Homo sapiens: one gene and its partners. The protein of the gene in region 1 interacts with the protein of each later gene in a pairwise test. Each region holds a gene or a part of one and is shown in the gene's direction. Other genes may lie near its edges. The genes, in order: SLC35A1, TMPRSS2, ASGR2 and SLC34A2.

Region 1 (7,027 bases):
TGTTACTTTTATGTAACTTCAGTGAGTAAAGCTAAATATAAGATTAAGAGCTGTATTCTTAATAAATACATTAACTTAAGCAGGATTTAACCTGATTAATACTGAAATTATTTACCCTCTTCTTTAAAACTTTCTGTGTGGTGAGATTCCCACATATTCTTTCCAATACCTCCTAAATCTCCTCTACTTTCTGATACTTTTCTGTTATTCTCTTTTACTAGTTCTTTTAGCATCCTCTGTTTTTTTTTGTAACTTATTTCAAAATATCTTATGTAACATTGCTATAATCTTTGGTACTACAGTGATATTTGCACTTTCCAGCAATTAACATTCTGGTATACCTTGGTTTCTCTAATGTCTACATTAGAGAAGGAACCAGAAAAAGATACCTTGGCCATCCTGACCGTGAAAAAATAGCTCCTAAGCATCCAACAAAAAGGATATGGCCAAAAGAGACAGATCTGAAGGTTAATCCTGACGCACTGTACTTTACTTTTTGCTCCACTGAAGGAAAGGAATACTCAGATTGGCTGCTAATTTGTTTCATAAGCCCTTCTTTTTATGTGAAAAGTGAGGGAGAAGTGATAAGAAAGAAAAGAGTGGGGAGAAAAGGGACCACAGCAGCCTTTATTGGTGCAGGTATCGTGATTATTTGGAGTAGCAGTTGGATCCTTAAGTAGCCCATATTCTGACAGGACAAAGAGAATCAGCCCTGTTTTTTGGAGAGTCAAAAGGTCGTTTGTTACCAGTGAAGGCTTCTAATGTCTTATTTTTTTCTTTTTTTTAAAAGAGATGGTATCTTACTCTTTCACCCAGGCTGGAGTGCAGTGGTGGCATCATAGCTCACTGTAGCTTCAAACTCCTGGGCTCAAGTGATGCTCCCACCTCAGCCTCCTGCGTAGCTGGGATGATAGGCATGTGCCACCACTCCTGGCAGTTTTTTTTTTTTTTTTAAGAGAAGGGATTTTCCTCTGTTACTTGGGCTGGTCTCCAACTCCTGGCCTCAAGTGATCCTCTTGCCTTAGCCTCCTGAGTAGCTGGGATACAGGTGTGAGCCACCACACCCACCAAGGCTATAATATATTTAACAGGTGGAGGTAAAGTGGCATTGCCCATAGCTGGGGATTAGGGAAAGGATAAATAGCCATTATATTGTAGCTTTTGAGGGTTTAGCATGAAGAATCTTACACCAGGAGATAAATGAATATGGGAGAAGGTGGAGTGTGAAGCATGGGCACAAACAGCCACCTCTCAGCAGTTCCTTCTGGGTATCACCTTAAAGACACATCATCAGTGTATGAGTCAGCATTTTAGAAGGGCACTAAAACTTGCACTTCATACAGTCTGTAAAATTTATATCTATGCTATCATGATACTAGAGATAATTATAATGTTCAGTTATCTTCTCTGATACATCACCTTATTAAGGTGATTATTTTACATTTTAATCTCTTTTTCTCTAATTTTTTCATCAGTTTTATAATTGAGGAGAAAACATTTTGAAAATTATTCTTTATACTCTATTTAAGATGTTGGCCAGGTGCAGTGGCTCATGCCTGTAATTCCAGCACTTTGGGAGGCCGAGGCAGGAGGATCACTTAAGGTCAGGAGTTTGAGACCAGCCTGCCAACATGGAAACCCCGTCTCTACCAAAAATACAAAAATAAGCCGGGCGTAGTGGCCTGTGCATGTAGTCCCAGCTACTCAGGAGGCTGAGGTAGGAGAATCCATGAACCTGGGAGATGGAGGTTGCAGTGAGCCGAGATTGCACCATTGCACTCCAGGTTGGGTGACAGAGAAAGACTCCGTCTCAAAAAAAACAAAACAAAACAACAAAGATGTAAGGAAAGTATATGGGGCATCTTAGATTTGCATTAAGCAGTTAAAAAAAAAGGCAAACATTAGTTTAAAGAGCCAATCTTCAGAAGCCTGGAAAACTCTCCTACATAGATTTTTTGGTGGAAAATCTGTGGTATTTTTGGTATTCTTCTGCTTTTCGAATAGAGTTTGTAGTCCACCACTAGGCTGTGTGCGTTCCTTTTCAGCATATAGACTTAACACTGTGGTGTGGGTTTGGATTTGGTAATACAAAGAGATCTGTAACTAAGAAGGATGTCTTTTGTTTCTGTGGCTTAGGTCAAAGTTCCTGTCTTATTAATTAAGCATTTTCTTGGAGGTAGAATGTTCTACAGCAAATAAATAGGCACAGGTTAGTCAATTTAATATAATGGACTTTTGCTTTCTCTCAGAACTTGGGCAATTATATTTGCAGCATTTAAAAATGAAAAAATTCAACTCACAACTGTTGATTCTAATATATTAACCAAAAATACAGAATCTCATTGTAATTATCAAACTTTGAGTTGGAACAGAGCTATTTCACCAACAAAGTATTATGGTTTTCTTAAGGATATCGTGAGCTGCAGTTAGGACCATTATTATAAAGCACTTCTTTTGGGGTATTGGTGCTTATTATAAAACATTGCTTTATTTTTACTTTCAGGAAATCAATGAGCTGATTTATGATACAGGAAATACAAGCCAGATTAGCCACGTCCTTCTGAAATAATAATAGCAAAAATAATAGTTAAGAGCATGCATAATCAATATGCAGTCAAACAGTAAACTTTATGTACATTAGAGATATAGTTTACTTTTGTTGGAGTTAGTAAATTATTCAGATCTGCTACAGAATTATACAGATATAAAGTATGAGAATATTCTTACATAAGGATTTATTATCTACTATATTTCATAAGTACTAAATTCATTTATAAATAATACTGACCTGACTCTTCCTAACCCACTTAACGAACTACCAAAGCCTTTTTATTTGCAATTAAATCTATTGTAATTTAAAAAAAACTTTAAAAATAGGCCAGGTGCAGTGGCTCACGCCTGTAATCCCAGTACTTTGGGAGGCCGAGGCGGGCAGATCACTTGAGGTCAGGAGTTTGAAACCAGCCTGGCCAACAATACTAAAAATACAAAAAATTTAGCTTGGTGTGGTGGTGGGTGCCTGTAATCCTAGGTACTCAGGAGGCTGAGGCAGGAGAATCACTTGAACACGGGAGGTGGAGGTTGCAGTGAGCTGAGATAGCGCCACTGCACTCCAGCCGGGGCGACACAACAAGACTCCATCTCAAAAATAAATATAAAAATAAAAATGGATATGCAAACTGATCAATTAAAAAGTAATCAGGGTGAACTTGATGAAATAGTTAAAGTAGCAGGGGATGAATTTTTTTATAGGTAATATCAACAGTTTTCCTAATCTCATTATTCAATATACTCAGAATCTCTCAGAGCTTTGACTAGAGATAGTGGTAAATCTAGTTGTTGTCATATTTTCCCAAACAGAACTATAATTTTTTAAAGAGGATACATTATTGGTATGTTTCTTTTAATCTAAAACTAGTTAGAAATTATTAGTTTGCTAAATTACAGCAAGCATAGTATGCTTGTCCTGTGTTTGAAGAAGTCTTATTAAAATAATACTCTTTAATTTTCTTCCTTACCACCCTCTCATCTCCCCCTTTTGTTTTCAAAGAGAAACTGGTAGTCTGGGTAGATTCAAAGCATCTTTAAGAGAAAATGTCTTGGGGAGCCCCAAGGAACTGTTGAAGTTAAGTGTGCCATCGTTAGTGTATGCTGTTCAGAACAACATGGCTTTCCTAGCTCTTAGCAATCTGGATGCAGCAGTGTACCAGGTAAGTGGAGTTAATGATAATGAAAAGCACAGAATCTTTTATGGTAAAAAGAGTTTTTATTAACTCTTTATCATATTATCAATTTTTTTTTTTTTTTTGAGATGGAGTCTCGCTCTTTCGTCTAGGCTGGAGTGCAGTGACGTGATCTCAGCTCACTGCAATCTCCGCCGCCCAGGTTCAAGCGATTCTCCTGCCTCAGCCTCCCGCGTAGCTGGGACTATAGGCACATGCCACCACACCCAGCTAATTTTTTGTATTTTTAGTAGAGATGAGGTTTCACTATGTTGGCCATGATGGTCTTGATCTCCAGACCTCGTGATCCACCACCCGCCTCGGCCTCCCAAAGTTCTGGGATTACAGGTGTGAGCCACCGTGCCCGGCCATTATCAAATATTTTTTATTGATAATTTTATCAATGATACCAGAAATAATATATTTGTATCAGAGACTAACATTAACTGAATTTATTAATTCATTCTCTTTTTTTTAGGTGACCTACCAGTTGAAGATTCCGTGTACTGCTTTATGCACTGTTTTAATGTTAAACCGGACACTCAGCAAATTACAGTGGGTTTCAGTTTTTATGCTGTGTGCTGGAGTTACGCTTGTACAGTGGAAACCAGCCCAAGCTACAAAAGTGGTGGTAAGAAACAAAATGCACACCATAACTTCCCATAAATAGAAAACTTCCTTAAGTCTTATACTGTTCAGTTACATTGATGCATGCAGCATGACTACATTTCTTTGATTTAAAATAACTTTTGCCTTATAGATAGGCCTTTTTTCTTTAGCATATTATTAGGGATAATAATACTTATTGGTTGTTTCTCAGAGGAGAATATGCATAAAATATGTTACAGATGGAACATACCTTAGAAATAATGTGTTCCATCCCCTCCATTTTATGGATGACAGTCCCCAAAGAGGTGAAGGAACTTGTCCTAAATTAGTTAATAGCTAACTTGTGACCACAACTGTGCCAGTTTCCATACTGTATATGTTTAGAACTTCTAGACCTCTTTCAAACATCTCAGAAACACTGGGCAAGGTTTTTCTGCATCTAGTTTTCATCTTCTCTCTCAACTGTCAGTCTCTGGCACATCTCCCTACTGTCAGTGATCAGGATGACAAGGGAAGGAGTGTTCTTACTGATAATTGATAATTATCTTTAGTTTTTAAGAGTTAATGTGAAGGTACATAACAGATTTTTAAAGAGTTAACGCTAAGATACATACATGATTTTTTTTCTTACATTGTATGCCTCAATCAGTTATTTCCCCAAAGAGAAACAGGAAATGGGATGCCAGTGAATAGTTTTGTGAAGGTCAGGAGTTTCCTACAGTTGAATATTTACTCTAACTTTTAGCAAACAGACTATGGTTCTCTTAGGAATGGAAGGCGGCTGGGATGTACAGTGCTTGTGAACAGTATCATATCCCCACCCTCCAGGTCCCCTCCTTCCCCAATTAAAACCCTACTGTTTCTTTCTATAATATGGTTTCTAGACAGACTTCCTGATCCCTGCCTTCTGCCCCTACACTTTTCCTTATATTTTTCTCCTAGATGCATTCATCTGTCATTATTTCTCAATATATCCTAAAACCCCACTGTCTCCCAATGTTGTCTAAGTAATACGAGGCACAGTTTGGTAATTACCCCTTTGTTCTGAATACCGGAGACTTGTTATACAGTCATGCATCGCTTAACAAAGAATGTAAGTTCAGGGTTCTGAGAGATGCATCATTAGGTGATTTCACTGTTGTGCAAACATCATGGAGTATACTTACACAAATCTAGATGGTATAGACTACTTACTACACATCTAGGCTGTACAGTATATAGCCTATTGTTCCTAGGCTACAAACTTCTGCAGCATGTTACTGTGCTGAATACTGTAGCGAGTTGTAACACAGTGGTAAGTTTAGCGTACCTAAACATAGAAAAGGCACAAATATAGTTTTATCTTACAGGACCGCTGTTTTATATGTGGTTCATCATGGACTGAAATGTCATTATGTGGTACATGACTGTTAATTTCTGGGGGGCAGGCAAAGTATCTATTTTACAATTGATCATAAACCACTACATGTAACTGTGTCACCCAAATAGTTTGTCTCAAATGTATCTTGTATCCCTCTCACCCCACTGTTCCCTCAATCTGTCTGCACTGCCATGCACTCCTCCACTACTGGTTAAGTGGGTTCCAAGTGTCAGGACTGGAATAGACTCTCATTGACACTAGAACTCAAACTCTGGCTTATTCTAAACCAGAATGCAGGTTGAGTTTGTATTTATTAAGCTCTTCTTGTTAGCTTTGGGTCATTGCTCAGCCCCTTGAGTTATTTCCAGTTCTTACCCATTATTAGCTTCTCCTTTGGGTATTACGCTTTCCAGAGTCAAAAAAAATATGCCTTCTGGGTCTTTAATGAAAATTTTAGGTAGAACAGGACCAGAGTTCTGTGGCTGTACCTTTAGAATTCTCTCTAGCTTGATCTTTTTCTTGCTTACTGAACATATCATCTCTCATAGTTTTTATGGGTCAGGAATTTGAGGGTGCCTTAGCTAGCTGGTTCTGGCTTGAGGTTGCAGTCAAGATACTGGCTAGGGCTGCAGTCAACTGAAGACTTGACTACGGCTGGAGGATCTGTTTCTAACGTGGCTTATCTATATGCCTGGCAAGTTGGTATTGGTTGATGGCCTAGCTTGATTTTGTTCAATTAACTACCATTTTTCTGTATGAGCATTCACACACTTACGGATTGTACCTTTATCCTCACTACAGTTCTGTGTTGTCTATAAAAATATTATGTGGCTGGTCGCAGATCACCAGGTGAGGAGTTCGAGACCAGCCTGGCTAACATGGTGAAACCCCGTCTGTACTAAAAATACAAAAACTTAGCTGGGCGTGGTGGCAGGCGCCTGTAATCCTAGCTACTCAGGAGGCTGAGGCAGGAGAATCGCTTGAACCTGGGAGGCAGAGGTTGCAGTGAGCCGAGATCGCGCCACTGCACACCAGCTCGAGTGATAGTGCGAGACTCTGTTTCAATAATAATAATAATAACAATAATATGCAAGTCTGTCACATTTTTTGCCAAACATTATCTCTATGGAATTCCCCTCATCACTTAACATTAGGAGTCCTTTCAGTAAGGAAATCTGGTATGTTTCACACTTGGTGAAGTCACACTATTTTCCACTGATGACCATTAAGCTTTTTAAGTACAAGTCATCTCTAAATCTGTTCTAACATTTTGCTGGTAATCAATGTAACAATAACAGCTGCAATCATTTATAATGCACTAAATACTAGCATTATC
Region 2 (7,027 bases), on another chromosome or scaffold:
TTTCACAGCGGATATCCAGTCATCACGCTGTACACATTAAACATGTACAATTGGGTTTTTTTGAGACAAGGTCTCCTTCTGTCACCCAGTCTGGAGTGCAGTGGCTCAGTCATGGCTCATTGCAGCCTCGACCTCCTGGGCTCAATCCATCCTTCCCCCTCAGCCTCCTGAAAAGCTGGGGCCACAGGCATGTACCATCATGCCAGGCTAATGCATATATATTTATATTTTTTGGTGGAGATGGGGTTGGTCTCGAACTCTGGGCTCAAGTGATCCTCCCGCCTTGCCCTTCCAAAGTGCTGAGATTACAGGCATGAACCACAGCACCAGGCCTACATGTAAAATTTTTATTTGTCAACTATACTTTGACAAAGCTGAGAAAAAAAATCCTAATATTTAAAAAAAAAAAAAAAAGGACTAGCTTGAGACCTTTTCCAGCTCTCTGGCTTATCAGCTGCCGTCTCTTCCGGGTGCAGATAGCTGGAAGGGAAAGAAAATCCCTAAAATTACCCACAAGCCAAGAATGAAGTGTCTCCCTTTGAGCCACAGTGGCAGTTTTGTTTTTAATCATAGAAGTGTATTTTGAGCCGGGTGTGCTGGCTCACGCCTGTAATCCCCGCACTTTGGGAGGCCGAGGTGGGGGGCGGAGGGGGTGGGGATCGCCTGAGGTCAGGAGTTCGAGACCAGCCTGACCAACATGGAGAAACCCCGTCTCTACTAAAAATACAAAATTAGCCGGCGTGGTGGTGCATGCCTGTAATCCCAGCTACTCATGAGGCTGAGTCAGGAGAATCTCTTGAACCCAGGAGGTGGAGGTTGCGGTGAGCTGAGATCATGCCATTGCACTCCAGCCTGGGAACAAGAAAAAAAAAGAAGAAGAAGAAGAAGTGTATTCATTTCAGTTACTTTTAAAAAAGTGAACAGACTTTATATTTTAGAGCGGTTTTAGGTTTACAGAAAATGAAACAGACAGGGCAGCGAGCTCCTTGTACTCCTCCCCAGCACACAGTTGCCCTGTTATGAACATCCCACATCAGTGCTGTGCGTTCATTAACACCGATGAACCTGATGCATACATTATGATGAACTGAAGTCCTGGACTTCACCCTTTCTCTTGTACAGTTCTGTGGGATTTGACAAATGCATAATGCTGTACAGCCACAATGATAGTATCGTCCAGAGTAGTTCTCCTGCCTTAAAACCTCTTTTGCTGCACCTGTTTCTCTCTCCCCACTCACCCCAGCTATCTGATCTTCTTAGTGCCTCCGAAGTTTTGGTCTTTTCAGGATGTTGTAGCGTTGGAATCATGGAGTATGTAGCCTTCACCACATACACCTTCCTTCACTTTGTTGGCTTCCTTTACTTAGTAATATGCATTCAAGTTTCCTCCATGCCTTTTCATGGCTTGATAGCTCATTTCTTTTTAGCACCAAATAATATTCCGTTGTCCAGATGTAGCACAATGTTTATCCATTCATGTAACCTGTGACCGACTCACAGATAGGATGTGGAATCACTCACCACAGAGGCATTAGACAATAATCAGACCCAAGTCATTTCATGGGGGAACAAGCCCACAGGTACCAGACTGTCCAGTGAGTCAGGGCCACTCGTAGGAAGTAAGAAGAGAGGCTAGAGCATAGCCAGGTCCTCACTTTATACTTTAAGCCCATGTGTATTTCTCCCAAACCACACAGCATTGTTTCCATGCTTTCAGCTTTGCATGAATAACGTGATACTTGAACGCATCATTTATCACTTGCTCTCTTTCCCACAGCGCTGTTTTCAAGCTTCTTCCTGTTCATGATGCTCTGCTTAACCCTTAAGCTGCATGGGATTCTGTTCTGTGAATACGCCCACCCCATGTATTATCCTGCCCAGCAAAAAGTCCCCAAAACTCTGGATGGTGGTTACCTCTAGGGAGGGAGAGAAGAGATTGGGAATAGGGAGCGACTTCAACGGTGTTTGTAATGTTTTGTTTCTTTAAATAAAAGAGCTGAGATCATTTCAGCAGAATGTTGATTTAGAGTCTCCTGGACAATTTGTTGCTCAAAGTGCTCTCTTAAAGAGCACTTTAAAAAAAAAAACCTTTTATCTTATTATTTATTTATTTATTTATTGAGACGGAGTTTTGCTCTGTCACCCAGGCTGGAGTGGAGTGGTGTGATCTCAGCTCACTGCAACCTTTACCTCCTGGGTTCAAGCAATTCCCCTGCCTCAGCCTCCCAAGTAGGTGGGATTACAGATGCGTGCCACCACACTTGGCTAATTTTTGCATTTTAGTAGAGATCGGTTTCTCCATGTTGGCCAGGCTGATCTCAAACGCCTGACCTCAGGTGATCTGCCCGCCTTGGCCTCCCAAAGTGCTGGTATTACAGGCGTGAGCTACCATGCCTGGCTTATCTTATATATTTTTAAAAACAGCTTATTGAGATCTAATTTATGTACCATAAAATTCAAGTATATAATTCAGTGCTTTTATATATAAAACATATATATGAAATAGCTTATTGAGATATAATTTTTTATATAAAACAGCTTATTGATATGTAATGTATGTACCATAAAATTTAAATATATAATTCACTGGCTTTTATATATTCACGAATATGTGCAACTATCACCACAGTCAATTTTAGCATATTTTCATCAGCTCATAAAGAAACCCCAAGCCCTTGAACTATCACCCCATATCCCTCCTCCCAGCCCGTCCCTCCTACTCATAAGCAACCACTAATCTACTTAGTGTCTATAGATTTCCTACTCTAGGCATTCCATGTGAGCGGGATCATGCAATACGTGGGCTCACACAATATAAGTGGCATTCCATGTGAGTCGGCTCATGCAGTATGTCCGGCTCCTTTCACTGAGCATAAGGTCTTCAGCACTCATCCAGGTTGCAGCCTGTGTCTGAATTTCATTCCCTCTTCTGGCTGAATCGTATTCCATTGTGTATCTTGGACATATCCTATTCTGCTCACCCAGCCGTTGGTGGGCGTTTGGAGTGTTTTCGCCTTTCAGCTGTTTTAAGAGGGTTGCAGTGAACATTTGTACAAGTTTTGGACCCAATGCCTGTTTTCAATTCTCTTGTGTAGAGAGCACTTTTTAGCAGAAAAAGAATAGATTTGTGGCCTCCCTTTGTGTGCGGTCAGTGCCTTGAGAAGAGTGAACTGTGCTGCCACCTCCGGAGCCGTGGAGAGCGCGGGGCTTGGGTAGCAGCTAGGACGATACAAGTTGGGACAAGGCCAGGTGCAATGGCTCACGCCTGTAATTCCAACACTTTGGGAGACCGAGGCAGGGGGATCACCTGAGGTCAGGAGTTCAAGACCAGCCTGGCCAACATGGTGAAACCCCATCTCTAATAAAACAGAAAAATTAACTGGACGGGGTGGTGGACGCCTGTAATCCCAGCTACTCGGGAGGCTGAGGCAGGAGAATCACTTGAACCTGGGAGGCGGAGGCTGCAGTGAGTGGAGATCAGACCACTGCACTTCAGCCTAGGTGACAGAGCGAGACTCCGTCTCAAAAAAAAGAAAAAAAAAGAAAGAAACTCATGGATAATCCTCCCTCTCGTGCAGTTCGCCTCTACGGACCAAACTTCATCCTTCAGGTGTACTCATCTCAGAGGAAGTCCTGGCACCCTGTGTGCCAAGACGACTGGAACGAGAACTACGGGCGGGCGGCCTGCAGGGACATGGGCTATAAGTGAGTATGGGGCAGCACCCGCCGAGTGACAGTAACAGACAGCAGAAACACGAGAAGACCCTCTCTCTGCCTCCCTGTGAAAGCACCGGCACATGAGTGCTGGGGACAATTGTCACCTTCCAAAAGCTGAGCCCTATAACCAGCAGGTGGAATTTGTCCTGCTAGGGCTGTGCCCAGCACACAGACCTTGGCTCACTGCCACCTTGCCCTGCCTCCTCCTTGGCCTCTATAGACTCCTGGTTGCTCGGGAGTGCCCAGTGCTGTGGTCATCTGGTCAGAGGGGTAGGCTGAGGGCGTTAGGTGCCTCTTTTTCCAAGGTGCCTCTCAGCCAGGGTCCATTCACCTCCCTGGGTAGAGGTTGGACCAGAACAGCTGGCGAGGAGGGTTGGGCTGGGGAGAGCAGCAGAGACAAATCCTGTGCCAGTTTCACTTCATTCGGGAGCCATGGAAGCCTTTTGAGCTGGGGAGAGAATCAATCAATCAGACTGATACTTAAAAAATGTCATTCCTGCTCGTAGCTCTGAGGGAAGGTGGGAAGGCTTAACAGGGTGTGTGTCGCCTGACAGTGATTCCTAACGGGGGTGGGGCGGTGGTTACCATTTACCAGCACTGCCTGGGGAGATGCGGCAGCCCTCAGGCATCGGGGGAGAGGGTGGTAGGATGCTACTGCCACTTTGTTTTCCATGGGAGGGTCCCCAGGTGATTTCTATGCAACTTTAGGGTATTCAATATGCCAGTTTTCAGAATGAATTACCACTCGGTGAGAAAGTTGGCATCTTAGCTAGTCACTGTGACATCCCTAAACAGCAGGGGTGAATTACACAGCAAAGCCCCCCCATCACAGTCCAGGAACCTGGTGGAATTGATAACTGGGGCCATGTTAACATCTGTACCTTTTATTAGATTAAATGTGTGTATGATTATACAATCCTATGTCCTTCTCATAGTTTCTTGATCCTAACCTGGATAAGAAACACGACCAATGAAGGAATTTTGTCTGACACTTTAGGGTTATTGAATCGAAAAATCGTTACAATATTCTAGCACTTGGTTAGAACGTGTGATTTTTTTTCCTAAATGCTAAGGTTTTTCCCTCTTATTCTGAATGTCGTATGAGCGGTATTATGACATAGTATAGGATTTGTGTTTGCTTATGCCTTAACCATTATCACAAATAAGGTTTTCTTTTTTAGGAATAATTTTTACTCTAGCCAAGGAATAGTGGATGACAGCGGATCCACCAGCTTTATGAAACTGAACACAAGTGCCGGCAATGTCGATATCTATAAAAAACTGTACCACAGGTATGCAGCAATTTCTTCTTGAAAAATTTTGGAATGAAATCAACTAGGAGACACCATGGGGAATCGTTGTCCTGAGTCTGATTTCTCTGAGCTGCAATACTCGGTCTGGATGGGTTTTGCATTGGGAGGAGATTAGAGTCTGACCAGGCCTGGTTACTCTAAGCAGCCCTTGGTTTATTCATAGGAAGTGGCTGAGGTTTCTCTGCTATTTCATTTTCAGCCTCTACCGTCTGCCCTTGTTGGTAGCGGCTCACACTTGCAACATCGACATTCAACTCTATTTAGTTTTCTTTCCTCTTCAGACATTTAGAGGTGTACCTATTTTGTCAGGGCGTGGTTCTAGGAATCCAAGATAATGTCTCAGTGTCCCAGCCAGGGTGACCGGCTCATTCCAGTTTGCCAGGGACTTCACTGGCTTGAGCAAGGGAAGTCCTGCTCCATTCCAGGCAGCTGGGCTGGCTGGTCCCGTTAGCCCCAACCCCGGGACAGCAGTGCCAGAGGGTGCTCTGTGAGGGATGGGCAGCATTCTGGCGGCCTGGGAATGAGTTGTGGTGTTTCCAGGGGGTAGAAGTGGGTACAAGCCACAGGTCACATGATGAGTGGCTGACCTGGCTGGGAGGGCAGAAGAGGGGATGGACTTAGGCTCTTCCTTTTGCTTTGCACATATTTAGGATGTTTGCAGACTTGCTATGATTGTTGCTGTTATGTGTTTTCTGATGTGAAAGATACACAGTGTCCTTTGCCCATGAGCTCTCCTTGCCTCCCAGGTCCCCAGGGCTTATGCCTGGTGTCTAGGCATCACCTCCCTGCCTGCCAGGTGCCAGGTGCTGCATTTCGGGGGAGGATGAACTAATCACCCCGCGCCACCTTTCCTCTGAGTGGGAGCCTGGGGCAGGTTTGCATTCCTGGAGGCCGCTGGTGGAGGGGTCTGGGGGCCTGACTTCCACTGCAGCCTGCTGTCCTGGGGAATGTGGCAGGGCAAGCCCAGTGGGGAGGGCTGTGCACGGCCAGGTGCACCCATCAAAACAGCAGGGCTGCGGTTTGTCCCTGTGGAGAAGCTAAACACAGCTGCCTGGGCACTTTGTAAATGCTGAGTGGTTCTTTGTCTTTCTGGGTTACACACGGAATCAGGGAGCCAAGTCCAGCCGGGCAGGGACGGGGGGAGGGGAGGAGGTGCTGCCGTCCCTTGGCAAGAGCCTTGGGAACTCACAAGGAGGCTGGAGGGCTTGGAAGAAAGAAGAGAAGGCCATTGTCTGGTAGGCTCTATTCTATCTCGGTGGTGGTGGTGGGGGGAGGCGCACTTCTTTTCCTCTTTCTGTGCAGCAGTTGCCCTTTGATGCCTGAGTTCTTGGCTTGTTTTCTGTCGGGCTTCTGTGAATAACCACATGTGCCCTGGCGCTGTGACCACACAGGGCTATCCCTACCGACCTTAGGATTCTTAGGAAATGTCTTCTCTTAAAGGGGACATGTCTTCACTTGGCCGTGTCAGTGCCCCAGAGCCAGAGTCCACCTGGAATGCACCTGTAGTCACTGAGAACCCGGGGGGTGTGCCTTAGTAAGAAGGTGTCAGGAAGGACCTATTATTGTAGGGCCTGGGCTCCTGCAAGGTGGTTTGGGGGTGGTTGGAGGAAGCAGAGATTTGCTCTGGATTGGATGCTGTCAGGAAGCAGGGGTAATTCTGTGAGGCTGCTTTATTATTTTTTTTCTAGGAGGAGGTTGGAATGAGGCTAGGCTAAAGCTGTGATTGGTAAAGAAACGTCCGTCGCTCAAGTTAGCCAGGACAGGAGGAGACATCAGATCGTGATTTTGTGGTTGTGAGCACAAGGTTCCTGTTCTGTCTGTTCAGACATCATTTCGGAGGAGGCTCCTTGTGTCTTGCCCCATCTCAGGCATGGAGGGGCCTAGTCCGATATTGACGCTCAGTGAAATAATTCAGGTTCCGCAGAGCACACGGCCCAGCTATCAGGGCGGGCCAGCTCTGCATGCCAGGGGCCGCGTCTTCCCTTCTCAGCATAGCC
Region 3 (7,027 bases), on another chromosome or scaffold:
TCTTGAGCTCCTGGGCTCAAGTGATTCCCCCCGTGTCGACCTCCCAAAGTGCTGGGATTACAGATGTGATCCACAGTGCCTGGCCCTAAATTTTTCTTACGCATTTCTCATCTTCCATTATTTCCATCCAGTGTGTTTTTTCTTTTCTTTCTTTTCTTTTTTTTTTTTTTGGAGGCGGAGTCTCGCTCTGTTGCCCAGGCCGGAGTGCAGTGGCGCGATCTTGGCTCACTGCAAGCTCTGCCTCCCGGGTTCATGCCATTCTCCTGCCTCAGCCTCCCGAGTAGCTGGGACTACAGGCGCCTGCCACCACGTCTGGCTAATTTTTTGTATTTTTAGTAGAGATGGGGTTTCACCATGTTAGCCAGGATGGTGTCGATCTCCTGACCTCATGATCTGCCCGCCTTGGCCTCCCACAGTGCTGGGATTCCAGGCGTGAGCCACGGCGCCTGGCCAGTGTGTTTTTTCATTTCAGACATTGTAGTTTTTATCTCTAGAAGTTCACCTGGGGACTCTTAAATATCCTCCACAATTCTACTTAATTTTTTGAACATAATGGGATATGGCTATAATATCTGTTTTACCATCCTTGCCTGCTAATTCTAGCATCCGTGTCAGTTCTGGATCTCTTTTGATATTTATGAACCTCCTCGTTATGCATTGTGTTTTCCCGTTTCATTGCATGCCTTGTAATCTTTGATTGGCTGCCAGACATTGTCAATTTCACCTTGTTGGGTGCTGGATATTTTTGTATTCCTCTAAATGTTCTTGAGCTTTGCTCCGGGATGCAGTTAAGCAACTTAGAGTCAGTTTGATCGTTTGAACTCTTAATTGTTTTGGTCTCCTCGGACTCTCAGCTCCATCTCCTCAACGTGGGGAGTCTCTTGGGCTCTGCCTGGACTTCCCTTTCCTGGCCTGTAACCTGCAGACTCTCTCCAAACAGTAAGCTGGGGTGATCGGAGGGTTCCTGTTGTTTGCTTCTTATCCCTCAGGGATCTTTACTCCTCCTTGCCTGATGTCCAGAGTCTTGAAAGCTGCCATGTTCTATAGTTGTCTGTTTTTGTTTTGATTGTTTCTGGGGAGAGAAGAACTCTTCCCATCTTGGGCAGACCCTGTCTTTTATGTTCAAACTTTTGCCTAAGAAGCACATTACATATTTTAACTCATCTAATTATCCGAGCAATCCAATCGGGTAGCTACGACTGTGATCTCCATTTTACACACGAGAAAATGGAAGCATGGAGAAATTGAATGCTGGTGCATGATCTCAGAGCTACCTGGAGGCACAGCTGGGCTACCCTGTGGGCAGTCTGGTTTCAGGGTGGATATACAGACACGTTGCTGGGCTGACCCAGCATTGGGAGTTGATAAGTCGGACTGGGAAGCAGGACAGGACCCTCTGAGTGGAGGGTGCTGAAGACAGCAGTCAGGGACTCAGCCATGGAGGGCCAGCTTGGTGGGGAACACCGTGGTCATGGAGCGCTTCTGGATGGAGAGGAATGCAAAGGCCTTGGAGGAAGGGGTGGGGGCAGTGAGAGGGAGGGTGGGGCTGTGCTCAGAGCGGGAGTGGGCAGTGGAGGTGTCAGAGGCCTCCCTGGGTCAAATGGGGTCCTGAGTGTGGCTGCAGTGGGGAAGGTGGAAGTCACTGGTGTGAAAAAGATGAAGAGTTATGGACAGTCACTTACAGGGGCAGTGTCTGACTCAGGACAGTGGCAGGAAGTGACCTGGGGAGGAAGATTCTGGGCCCCTGACTGAGCCTCCCCAGGATGTGGTCCTGCTGGGTCGGGGGGTGATAGGAATGAGAAGACAAGGAAGTCCACAGAGTCAGGGTCCAAGGCCTAGAAGGTGTTCTGTTTGCAGGTGGATGCTGCAAAGAGAGGAGCTCAGGGCTGGGACAACTGGAGCTGCTCTGGGTCTGGAGGCAGCAGAGAGGGAGCCCAGCTCTGTGTGCAGGAAGACGTGGGTGTGTGAGTGTACGTGTGTGGGTGTGTCAGGTGTGTGTGTGTGGGAGGGAGTATGAATGTGTGCATTAGCATGCATATGCACATGTGAGAGTGGGTACAGCAGAGCGTGGTCATGAGTGTGTGCAAATGTGTGTTTTTGAGTGAAGTGAGCAATGTGTGAGTGTGTGAGTGTGTGTGAGTTTGTGAGGGCATGTGAATGTGTGTGTCAGTGCTGTCAGGGTGCAGATGGATCAAGGGGCAGGAGAGGTACCTGTGAGATGACCTCGGGCTGAGGGGAGCAAATTTAGTGTGGAACGAGGTTTCTAGGGAAGCGAGGGCAAAGGGCGCTGGGGAGGAGGCCTTGCGTGGTGGGGGATGAGGACAACAGGTGGGACCTGGAGGGTTGTGCTTGGAGAGTGGGCTATGGTGGAATGACCCAGATTTAAGGATCTCAATGGAATTTTGGCAGGGGAGGGACTGTTCCAGTATGGATTTTAGGAAGAACACAGGGCCCAGCTTCTGGAGTCTCCAATCTGAGGGGACAGGAGCCTTAGAAGAGCTGAGACTAAGGCCCGAGGTGATCTGGAGGCCTCTGCCACTGGCTGGATGGGAGGAAAACCATTCACAGATCCCCCTTCTCAGGATGTGTGCCTAGGCAGGGCCGGGTCTGCCCCCCCGCCCCCTGTGCGTCTCCCAGTCCCCCAGCTCCAGGATCCGGGCTTTGCACACAGCTGATGTGAATATCCTGAGTCGTGTGCATGGGTGTGTGTGCACCAGATTAGCTGCGTGTGTATATTTATACATGGTAATATGGGTGCGAGTGTGTAAGAGTGTGTGTGTAATGCTCAAATGCTGGGGTCAAAGCCTATGATGACCCCCCCCCATGGCCCCAACCAATCCCCCCGCCCAGGTTATGCCTCCTCAGGCTTCGGTGCCCTGTCTTTACCCTCCGGCTCCCCACACCCAGGCTGCCGGCTCCTGATGCCCCTCTCCCACAGGGCCACCTCCTGCCCAGCCCCTGGCACAGCGTCTCTGCTCCATGGTCTGCTTCAGTCTGCTTGCCCTGAGCTTCAACATCCTGCTGCTGGTGGTCATCTGTGTGACTGGGTCCCAAAGTGAGGGTCACGGGGGCCAGCAGGGATGGGCAAGGGGTAGGGAAAGAGACATGGGCAGTGGCGGGCAGCGATCGGGGCGATGGGAGGGGAAGGGATGGAGGCGGGGTGGAGCACAAGCTGGGGCAAATGCGGGGACATTGAGGGGCCAGTCACATGGACAGTGATGGGGACACGGCCCCTCTGCCTCATCCTGCCCCCACTACCACCTGACAAGGTGCACAGCTGCAAGCCGAGCTGCGGAGCCTGAAGGAAGCTTTCAGCAACTTCTCCTCGAGCACCCTGACGGAGGTCCAGGCAATCAGCACCCACGGTGAGGGGCTGGACGGCTGGGTTCTCATTTATCCGCACAGGTTTGCTGGGCTCAGTGCCGAGTCTGCAACAGGGCTGTGTGGGGTGCCGTGGGGGTGCAGGCTGGGCAAGGCGTCCAGGGGCCCTGGGGGATGTATAGGAGGGAGGCAGGTGGGGACGGACGAGGTTAGTGCCAGGTGGAGAGGTTGGATCTGCGACACCCGGAGGTGAGGAAGGCACCATGTCTTGGGCCTGTGAGCAAATCGAGTGTGGCAGGCCCATCGGAGGGGCAGGCAGGTAAGGGGTGGCCAGAGAGAGGTGGGGAGGGGCCCGGCCACGCAGGTGAGCCGTGCTGACAGAGCGAGGCTTTATTTTGAGAAAATGGGGACCCATTGAAGGGACTGAAGCAGGAGAGTGGCCTGAGCCACTGTGGCAGTGCAGGGAGCCTGGGTGTGGTCCAGGAAGCCAGGAGGTGGACGCCTGCATCGCCCAGGACGAGGCGCTGGCCCCCGGTCCCCCAGCAGCATGAGGACGGAGGGAGGCTCAGCGGGGAAACAGCTGGCTTTCCGCTTCCAGGAGGCAGCGTGGGTGACAAGATCACATCCCTAGGAGCCAAGCTGGAGAAACAGCAGCAGGACCTGAAAGCAGGTCAGAGAGCCTCCGGGGTGTGTGCGCATGTGCGTGCATGTGTACGTGTGCGGTGTGTGTAGTGTGTACGTGTGCGGTGTGTGTAGTGTGCACGTGTGCGTGCGTGCGTGTGTGTGCCTGCAAGCATGTGTATCTGTGTCTCTCTCCGTATGTGTGGTGTGATATGTCATGGATCTGTGTGTGGTGTGTAGTGTGGTGTATATGTGTGTGTTGTGTGTGTATGCATGTGTGGTGGTGTGTGTGAGATGAGTCTGTGTGTGTGCGGTATGGTATATGTGTGTGTACGCATGTGATGTGTGTGGTGTGTCTCTTGGTGTGTTTGTGTGTGTGTGATGGATCTGTGTGTGGTGTGGTCTATGTGTGGTGTACATGTCTGTGGTGTGTGTGTGGTATGGTGTGTGGTGTGGTCTATGCATGGTGTACGTGTCTGTGGGTGTATATGCTTCCCCAGCCACAGGCTGGAGCCTAGCAGGTGGGGACCACACCTGCCGGCAGCACTTTCAGCCTGTCTGTCCTAGATCACGATGCCCTGCTCTTCCATCTGAAGCACTTCCCCGTGGACCTGCGCTTCGTGGCCTGCCAGATGGAGCTCCTCCACAGCAACGGTAGGGGTGGGGCCGTCTCCAGGCCCAGTGTGCCTGCCCCTCCGGCTGGATCTCATCTCCCTGCCCCCTGTCCCCTCAGGCTCCCAAAGGACCTGCTGCCCCGTCAACTGGGTGGAGCACCAAGGCAGCTGCTACTGGTTCTCTCACTCCGGGAAGGCCTGGGCTGAGGCGGAGAAGTACTGCCAGCTGGAGAACGCACACCTGGTGGTCATCAACTCCTGGGAGGAGCAGGTGAGGCCACGCTTCCCACAGGCAGGAGGAAGCCCTTGGAAGGCCTGCTCTGGGAGGCTGGATCAGGCTTATTTTATCCATTTTTTTTTTTTTTTTGAGATGGAGTCTCGCTCTGTCGCCCAAGCTGGAGTGCAGTGGCACGATCTCGGCTCACTGCAAGCTCCGCCTTCTGGGTTCACGCCATTCTCCTGCCTCGGCCTCCCAAAGTGCTGGGATTACAGGCACGTGCCACCATGCCCGGCTAATTTTTTTGTATTTTTAGTAGAGACGGGGTTTCACCGTCTTAGCCAGGCTGGTCTGGAACTCCTGACCTCATGATCCGCCCACCTCCGCCTCCCAAAGTGGTGGGATTACAGGCGTGAACCACCGCGTCTGGCTGAACTTCAAAGTATTTTAATGCCACAGTAGTTAAGCCATATGATACAGGGGCCAGAATATATGTATTGTTTGCATTACATCAGGCTCTGTTAGTACTTTACAGCATACTGTGAGTACGAACATATTTTGCTTTACTGATCAGGTTGAACTTGCCAACATTTCATCAGTTTTGACCTATAAAAATGTCAGTTTCATGCAGTTCAACCTAAGATCTCAGTGCTCTGTGATTTGGCACACAATAAGCTCATGACCACTACAACTTCGTGGTGGACGGTGCTTTCGTCACTATGAAGCCAACGTGTGTCCCAGTTAATGCTTTTTGCCTTGAATTTATCTGATATATAAATACCACGGTCCTTGATTTTTTTGTCACTTGCATTTGCTTGCTGTATCTCTGTCCATCCTTTTGTTTCTTACCTTTTTGAATCTCTGTTTTAAATTAATGATTCTCAGTCTTGACTGTACATTGCAATCTCTTCAAGAGTTAAAAAAAATATATCGACTCCTGGATCTCGCCCTTAAAAATGCTGATTTAGGCCGGGTGCAGTGGCTCACGCCTGTAATCCCAGCACTTTGGGAGGCCGAGGTGGGCGGATCATGAAGTCAGGAGTTCGAGACCAGCCTGGCCAAAATGGTGAAACCCTATCTGTACTAAACATACAAAAATTAGCCGGGCATGGTGGCGGGTGCCTGTAATCCCAGCTACTCAGGAGGCTGAGGCAGGAGAATCACTTGAACCCGGGAGGCAGAGGTTGTGGTGAGCTGAGACTGCGCCATTATACTCCAGCCCGGGTGACAGTGCGAGACTCTGACTCAAAAAAAAAAAAAAATGCTAATTTAAATTAATCTTGGCTTCATCCTGGACCATTCCCTGAGGGGCAGCACAGGGCAGCTAAGCTTAAGGTATTTCTCCTATATAGGTTTTTTGTTTTGTTTTGTTTTTGATACAAGATCTGGCTCTATCGCCCAGGTTGGAGTGCAGTGGCATGATCTCAGCTCACTGTAACCTGTGCCTCCCGGGCTCAACGGATTCTCCCACCTCAGCCTCCCAAGTAGCTGGGACTACAGGTGCACACCACCATACCTGGGTAGTTTTTTGCATTTTTAGTAGAAATGGTGTTGTGCCATGTTGCCCAGGCTGGTCTTGAACCCCTGGCCTCAAGCGATTCGCCCGCCTGGGCCTCCCAAAATATTGGGATTACAGGTGTCTGAGCCACTGTAATCCAAAAACTGCACCTGGCAGGTTTTGTTTTTGATGTTTAAAAATCTAATAAGTACCTTTTCTTTTAATAGGTGAGTGTCTCATTTACATTCTAATAGATATGTTTAACCCTAGTCCTTTCTTTTTTCTGCTTTACATGCTTCTTAATTTTCTTACAATTGCTATGTGAGAGGTGTTCTTTTTGTTTTCTTCTTTATGGTATTTTGGAAACTATGTAGTTTATTTAGAGTTATTCCAGTGATTACTTGTATAACTTTAAATAATAGGCTGAAAATTATTGGCTTTGAAAACTAAAAGTTTGTATAACTTCCATAGGAAAGGTGAGGAGACCAGGATACCTCTTATTCCCATGTGTCTGAGTCTTTCCTTTCCTAGGTTCCTTAAGTGTTGTATCTGAAAAAAAAAAAAAATTTTTTTTTTTTTTGAGATGGAGTCTTGCTCTGTCGCCCAGGCTGGAGTGCAATGGCGCGATCTTGGCTCACTGCAACCTCTGCCTCCCAGGTTCAAGCAATTCTCCTGTCTTAGTATCCCGAGTAGCTGAGATTACAGGCACCCGCCATCGTGCCTGGCTAACTTTTATATTTTTTAGTAGAGACAGGG
Region 4 (6,425 bases), on another chromosome or scaffold:
CAGTTGTGTGATTTTTAAAGCCATCACTTCATCTTCCAGCCTCATGCGATCCCACTGATTATGACATAGTTTCAGTGGTGCCCCTTGCTGCGAAGGAGGCTGAGAAGGGCTGTCTTGATTTGGGGCTGCCATCTGTTAAACTAACAACCAGGAATCTGTTTGTAGGAAAGACAGGATCTGGGGGAATAAATAACAATCTGTAGCCGTGGTGGCTCCATGCCCTCCTGACAAGATTCTTTGTGGTCTTTCAGGCCAGCATATCTTTGTGAATTTCCACCTCCCGGATCTTGCTGTGGGCACCATCTTGCTCATACTCTCCCTGCTGGTCCTCTGTGGTTGCCTGATCATGATTGTCAAGATCCTGGGCTCTGTGCTCAAGGGGCAGGTCGCCACTGTCATCAAGAAGACCATCAACACTGGTAGGTACACTGCCCTCACTTGTAGGCCTCACATGTAGTCACTGCATGGGGTGTGGGGGTCCTTTAGATTCCCATCTAGCAATGGCCTCTGCATGGAGTTTCTCTCTCAGATTGGATCAGCACCAGAAGTGAGGATGTCATTCACCTGGAAATGTTCTTGGCATCCTGGGTGGGGTCTAGGGAGCAGGCCCAAGTTTCCATTGCATCTTGGCAAGGTCCTGAGCAGGAGTTCATATCTAGAGAGCTGTGAGTCAGGCCTTCCTTCTTAGCGGGTTTCCTGTATGCTCAGAGCTTTACTGGCTCTGTCAAGACCCCTTAGAAAAAGGACCCCAGGTGTCTGCCCTCGCCCCCACCTCCCTTCACTCTTGTAAAGGAAATGTGATGCATAAATACATCAGCATCTAGAGGTGGCCAATGAGACTGCTGGCTAAGAGGATTTCCTGCCAAGTAGGGTGTCCTGGCCAATGAGAGCTCGCTAAGCCAATGACATCATCACTTCATGAAAGCTCAGTGAAATATAGCCAAGAAAATTCGCCCCCCACCCCAGATTGTCTTGGGGAACAGAGCAACTCTGGGTGCTTCTGGGAAATGCAGGGCCTGATCCGGTGCTAGTTGGGTGGAGGACTCAGTTGGCAGGCATGTTCCAAGCTGCTACAGTTTCTTGATGCTCTTTAAGGCAGAAATGAAGGTTGAAGGTCAAATGTGGGTGCTGACAGGAGACCAGGGCAGGCGAGGAAGCATGCTCTCAGCACTTTCTGGAAGGAGAGTGGTTACTTGGGTGGGTTCACTCTTTCTAACCTGACCTCCAGGGAATCTGTGTTTTTGTTTTCATAACACTTACCTGTATCCTTGGTTTTTCCATCTGAATATGCGGAGCAAAAGACAATGGGGAATGAAACTGGATTCTAAAACTCTACTCTGTAATCTGAGACCATATATGGGATGATGTACAACCTCACCCCTAAGCCCAGCCCCTACCCCAGGCCACCAGGCCATACCTTCCCCGGAGAGGCCATGACATCTCTTCCTTCTGTCTTCCAGATTTCCCCTTTCCCTTTGCATGGTTGACTGGCTACCTGGCCATCCTCGTCGGGGCAGGCATGACCTTCATCGTACAGAGCAGCTCTGTGTTCACGTCGGCCTTGACCCCCCTGATTGGTGAGTTACACCCTGGCTTCTCCCTCTGGCCACCACTGCCATTTCCTGTCATCCCATGGGGCTGATATGTTTGTGTTTTGTGTTTCCCCCAGGAATCGGCGTGATAACCATTGAGAGGGCTTATCCACTCACGCTGGGCTCCAACATCGGCACCACCACCACCGCCATCCTGGCCGCCTTAGCCAGCCCTGGCAATGCATTGAGGAGTTCACTCCAGGTCAGGACTTGGGGCACGGGGACAGGGGCCCTGGGAGTGGGACCACCCATGGTCTTGCAAACTGGTCTCTAACAAGAGCCAGGCTTTTCTCTGTACTATCCAAAATATGGAACTAATATGTGGAGGGGAAGCCACGGGTAAAGTTTTCAGGACCTTGATATGAGAACAATCAAAACTATCAGTTCTGAGAGAAGCAGTAAGACCCTCATAACTGGTGGTTGTTTCAGCAAAAGTGGGGTGGCCCCTTGATATAGATGTGGAAAAGGTACTTAGGAAGCACAGACACCACCTCCCATCTCCTCACTGCCTCCTATGGGGAACTTTACAATTAGGAGAACTCCTTGGCATGGACCATCTATGTTACTTTGTGCAAGACCTTTGGGATTTGAATTTATTTATTTATTTTTATTTTATTTTTTTGAGACAGAGTCTCGCACTGTAGCCCAGGCTGGAGTGCAGTGATACAATCTCCACTCACTGCAACCTCCACCTCCCAGGTTCAAGTGATTTTCCTGCCTCAGCCTCCCGAGCAGCTGGGATTACAGGCACCTGCCACCACACCTGGCTGATTTTTTGTATTTTTAGTAGAGACGGGGTTTCCCTATGTTGGCCAGGCTGGTCTTGAACTCTGGACCTCATGATGTGCTTGCCTTGGCCTCCCAAAGTGCTGGGATTACAGGCGTGAGCCACTGCACCCAGCCGGGGATTTGAATTCTTATCTCACCATTTACATACTAAGTGACCTTTGGCAAGTGATCTAACCTGAGCGTCAATTCCCTCATCTGAAAGATGGAGGACATAACCCCTATCTCATTAGGATTATTATAAAGATCTGATGAGGCAAAGCCATCTGTGCAACAGAAATAGAAATTCAGGCATCTAATATAAATTAACCGCATATGTCATCCTAAAATTTTTTAGTAGATACATTTTTAAAAGTAGAAACAGGCTGATTCATTCTTCAATAATGTATTTGATCTAAACCATTATCACTTTAATATGTCATCTGTCAAAAATTGAGAGTCTTTGAAATCTGGTGTGTATTTCATACTTAAAGCACATCTCAGTGTGGACATGCGGCTAGTGTATTGGACAGTGCTGGTCCACAGCCTGGGCATGGAAATTGGCACCTTGGGAAAGTGACCAAGCGCCTGGCCTCTGGAGCCAGGCTCCCAGGATGTGAATTTCCACCTCTTCCATCTCCCACCTGTGGGACTTGAGGAGCCTCCATTTTCTCATGTCAAGAAATAATGGTTGCCACTCTGTAGAGTGTTTTTTGAGAATTGAGATAATGCACAGTTGAGTGCTCCTGGCCCTCCCAGACACATAGTAGGTCCTCATGGAATCCAGGTACCCTCTGGGCTGAGCCATAAGGACAAAGAAGGCCTGGAAGGCCCGAGACTGTGCTGCCTGTGATGCCTGCTAGCTTACCTCCCCCTCCTCCTCCCTACTGCCACCCGCATTGGGCAACAGGCCCCTCACCTGTCCAACCTCTTGTGTTGCAGATCGCCCTGTGCCACTTTTTCTTCAACATCTCCGGCATCTTGCTGTGGTACCCGATCCCGTTCACTCGCCTGCCCATCCGCATGGCCAAGGGGCTGGGCAACATCTCTGCCAAGTATCGCTGGTTCGCCGTCTTCTACCTGATCATCTTCTTCTTCCTGATCCCGCTGACGGTGTTTGGCCTCTCGCTGGCCGGCTGGCGGGTGCTGGTTGGTGTCGGGGTTCCCGTCGTCTTCATCATCATCCTGGTACTGTGCCTCCGACTCCTGCAGTCTCGCTGCCCACGCGTCCTGCCGAAGAAACTCCAGAACTGGAACTTCCTGCCGCTGTGGATGCGCTCGCTGAAGCCCTGGGATGCCGTCGTCTCCAAGTTCACCGGCTGCTTCCAGATGCGCTGCTGCTGCTGCTGCCGCGTGTGCTGCCGCGCGTGCTGCTTGCTGTGTGACTGCCCCAAGTGCTGCCGCTGCAGCAAGTGCTGCGAGGACTTGGAGGAGGCGCAGGAGGGGCAGGATGTCCCTGTCAAGGCTCCTGAGACCTTTGATAACATAACCATTAGCAGAGAGGCTCAGGGTGAGGTCCCTGCCTCGGACTCAAAGACCGAATGCACGGCCTTGTAGGGGACGCCCCAGATTGTCAGGGATGGGGGGATGGTCCTTGAGTTTTGCATGCTCTCCTCCCTCCCACTTCTGCACCCTTTCACCACCTCGAGGAGATTTGCTCCCCATTAGCGAATGAAATTGATGCAGTCCTACCTAACTCGATTCCCTTTGGCTTGGTGGTAGGCCTGCAGGGCACTTTTATTCCAACCCCTGGTCACTCAGTAATCTTTTACTCCAGGAAGGCACAGGATGGTACCTAAAGAGAATTAGAGAATGAACCTGGCGGGACGGATGTCTAATCCTGCGCCTAGCTGGGTTGGTCAGTAGAACCTATTTTCAGACTCAAAAACCATCTTCAGAAAGAAAAGGCCCAGGGAAGGAATGTATGAGAGGCTCTCCCAGATGAGGAAGTGTACTCTCTATGACTATCAAGCTCAGGCCTCTCCCTTTTTTTAAACCAAAGTCTGGCAACCAAGAGCAGCAGCTCCATGGCCTCCTTGCCCCAGATCAGCCTGGGTCAGGGGACATAGTGTCATTGTTTGGAAACTGCAGACCACAAGGTGTGGGTCTATCCCACTTCCTAGTGCTCCCCACATTCCCCATCAGGGCTTCCTCACGTGGACAGGTGTGCTAGTCCAGGCAGTTCACTTGCAGTTTCCTTGTCCTCATGCTTCGGGGATGGGAGCCACGCCTGAACTAGAGTTCAGGCTGGATACATGTGCTCACCTGCTGCTCTTGTCTTCCTAAGAGACAGAGAGTGGGGCAGATGGAGGAGAAGAAAGTGAGGAATGAGTAGCATAGCATTCTGCCAAAAGGGCCCCAGATTCTTAATTTAGCAAACTAAGAAGCCCAATTCAAAAGCATTGTGGCTAAAGTCTAACGCTCCTCTCTTGGTCAGATAACAAAAGCCCTCCCTGTTGGATCTTTTGAAATAAAACGTGCAAGTTATCCAGGCTCGTAGCCTGCATGCTGCCACCTTGAATCCCAGGGAGTATCTGCACCTGGAATAGCTCTCCACCCCTCTCTGCCTCCTTACTTTCTGTGCAAGATGACTTCCTGGGTTAACTTCCTTCTTTCCATCCACCCACCCACTGGAATCTCTTTCCAAACATTTTTCCATTTTCCCACAGATGGGCTTTGATTAGCTGTCCTCTCTCCATGCCTGCAAAGCTCCAGATTTTTGGGGAAAGCTGTACCCAACTGGACTGCCCAGTGAACTGGGATCATTAAGTACAGTCGAGCACACGTGTGTGCATGGGTCAAAGGGGTGTGTTCCTTCTCATCCTAGATGCCTTCTCTGTGCCTTCCACAGCCTCCTGCCTGATTACACCACTGCCCCCGCCCCACCCTCAGCCATCCCAATTCTTCCTGGCCAGTGCGCTCCAGCCTTATCTAGGAAAGGAGGAGTGGGTGTAGCCGTGCAGCAAGATTGGGGCCTCCCCCATCCCAGCTTCTCCACCATCCCAGCAAGTCAGGATATCAGACAGTCCTCCCCTGACCCTCCCCCTTGTAGATATCAATTCCCAAACAGAGCCAAATACTCTATATCTATAGTCACAGCCCTGTACAGCATTTTTCATAAGTTATATAGTAAATGGTCTGCATGATTTGTGCTTCTAGTGCTCTCATTTGGAAATGAGGCAGGCTTCTTCTATGAAATGTAAAGAAAGAAACCACTTTGTATATTTTGTAATACCACCTCTGTGGCCATGCCTGCCCCGCCCACTCTGTATATATGTAAGTTAAACCCGGGCAGGGGCTGTGGCCGTCTTTGTACTCTGGTGATTTTTAAAAATTGAATCTTTGTACTTGCATTGATTGTATAATAATTTTGAGACCAGGTCTCGCTGTGTTGCTCAGGCTGGTCTCAAACTCCTGAGATCAAGCAATCCGCCCACCTCAGCCTCCCAAAGTGCTGAGATCACAGGCGTGAGCCACCACCAGGCCTGATTGTAATTTTTTTTTTTTTTTTTTTACTGGTTATGGGAAGGGAGAAATAAAATCATCAAACCCAAAAGGAGTGTGTTGTTTTTAATTACAGGGAAATAGGGACCTCCTTGGATCTATTTTATAAAAATGTGAGGTCTCCTTTTACCTCGTTGCACTGCTAGGAGCAAGATGGGTCACCAGCAGCTGTACTGGAGCCACCCAAAAAAATTCGGCCAGGGTTCTCGTTCTTGTCGTGTCTATTCAAACCAGCACGGTCTGATCCGGAAATATGGCCTCAATAAGTGCCGCCAATGTTTCTGTCAGTACGCGAAGGATATCGGTTTCATTAAGTTGGACTAAATGATCTTCCTTCAAAGGATTATCCAAGTCATCTACTCAATGAAAAACCATGATAGTTCTTTGTACATAAAATAAACATTTGAAAAAACAAAACAAAACGAACAAAAAAAAATGTGAGGTCTCTTCCTTCACTGAATGTCACTACCCACCACTTACCATCTGACCCTCCAGCTGCATAATTTGTGGAGCCTCTTGTTCAAAAACCTGGAGAAAAGTGTCATTTTATATTGTTCAATGCCA

What was found.
Region 2: the proteins of SLC35A1 (region 1) and TMPRSS2 interact in binary tests that used the Homo sapiens proteins (3 or more experiments, as listed by UniProt).
Region 3: the proteins of SLC35A1 (region 1) and ASGR2 interact in binary tests that used the Homo sapiens proteins (3 or more experiments, as listed by UniProt).
Region 4: the proteins of SLC35A1 (region 1) and SLC34A2 interact in binary tests that used the Homo sapiens proteins (3 or more experiments, as listed by UniProt).

What each region holds. Positions count from the first base shown.
Region 1 is NC_000006.12:87,496,958-87,503,984, forward strand, and holds part of SLC35A1 (CMP-sialic acid transporter), read left to right. Parts: intron 1-3,550; coding exon 3,551-3,710; intron 3,711-4,200; coding exon 4,201-4,353; intron 4,354-7,027. UniProt on the Homo sapiens protein: Transports CMP-sialic acid from the cytosol into the Golgi apparatus, functioning as an antiporter that exchanges CMP-sialic acid for CMP. Binds both CMP-sialic acid and free CMP, but has higher affinity for free CMP.
Region 2 is NC_000021.9:41,477,154-41,484,180, reverse strand, and holds part of TMPRSS2 (transmembrane protease serine 2), read left to right. Parts: intron 1-3,578; coding exon 3,579-3,705; intron 3,706-4,898; coding exon 4,899-5,009; intron 5,010-7,027. UniProt on the Homo sapiens protein: Plasma membrane-anchored serine protease that cleaves at arginine residues. Participates in proteolytic cascades of relevance for the normal physiologic function of the prostate.
Region 3 is NC_000017.11:7,104,800-7,111,826, reverse strand, and holds part of ASGR2 (asialoglycoprotein receptor 2), read left to right. Parts: intron 1-2,938; coding exon 2,939-3,055; coding exon of another isoform or gene 3,056-3,091; intron 3,092-3,269; coding exon 3,270-3,365; intron 3,366-3,919; coding exon 3,920-3,991; intron 3,992-4,509; coding exon 4,510-4,596; intron 4,597-4,675; coding exon 4,676-4,827; intron 4,828-7,027. UniProt on the Homo sapiens protein: Mediates the endocytosis of plasma glycoproteins to which the terminal sialic acid residue on their complex carbohydrate moieties has been removed. The receptor recognizes terminal galactose and N-acetylgalactosamine units.
Region 4 is NC_000004.12:25,672,836-25,679,260, forward strand, and holds the end of SLC34A2 (sodium-dependent phosphate transport protein 2B), read left to right. Parts: intron 1-251; coding exon 252-419; intron 420-1,460; coding exon 1,461-1,577; intron 1,578-1,669; coding exon 1,670-1,794; intron 1,795-3,299; coding exon 3,300-3,914; 3' UTR 3,915-5,913; downstream 5,914-6,425. UniProt on the Homo sapiens protein: Involved in actively transporting phosphate into cells via Na(+) cotransport.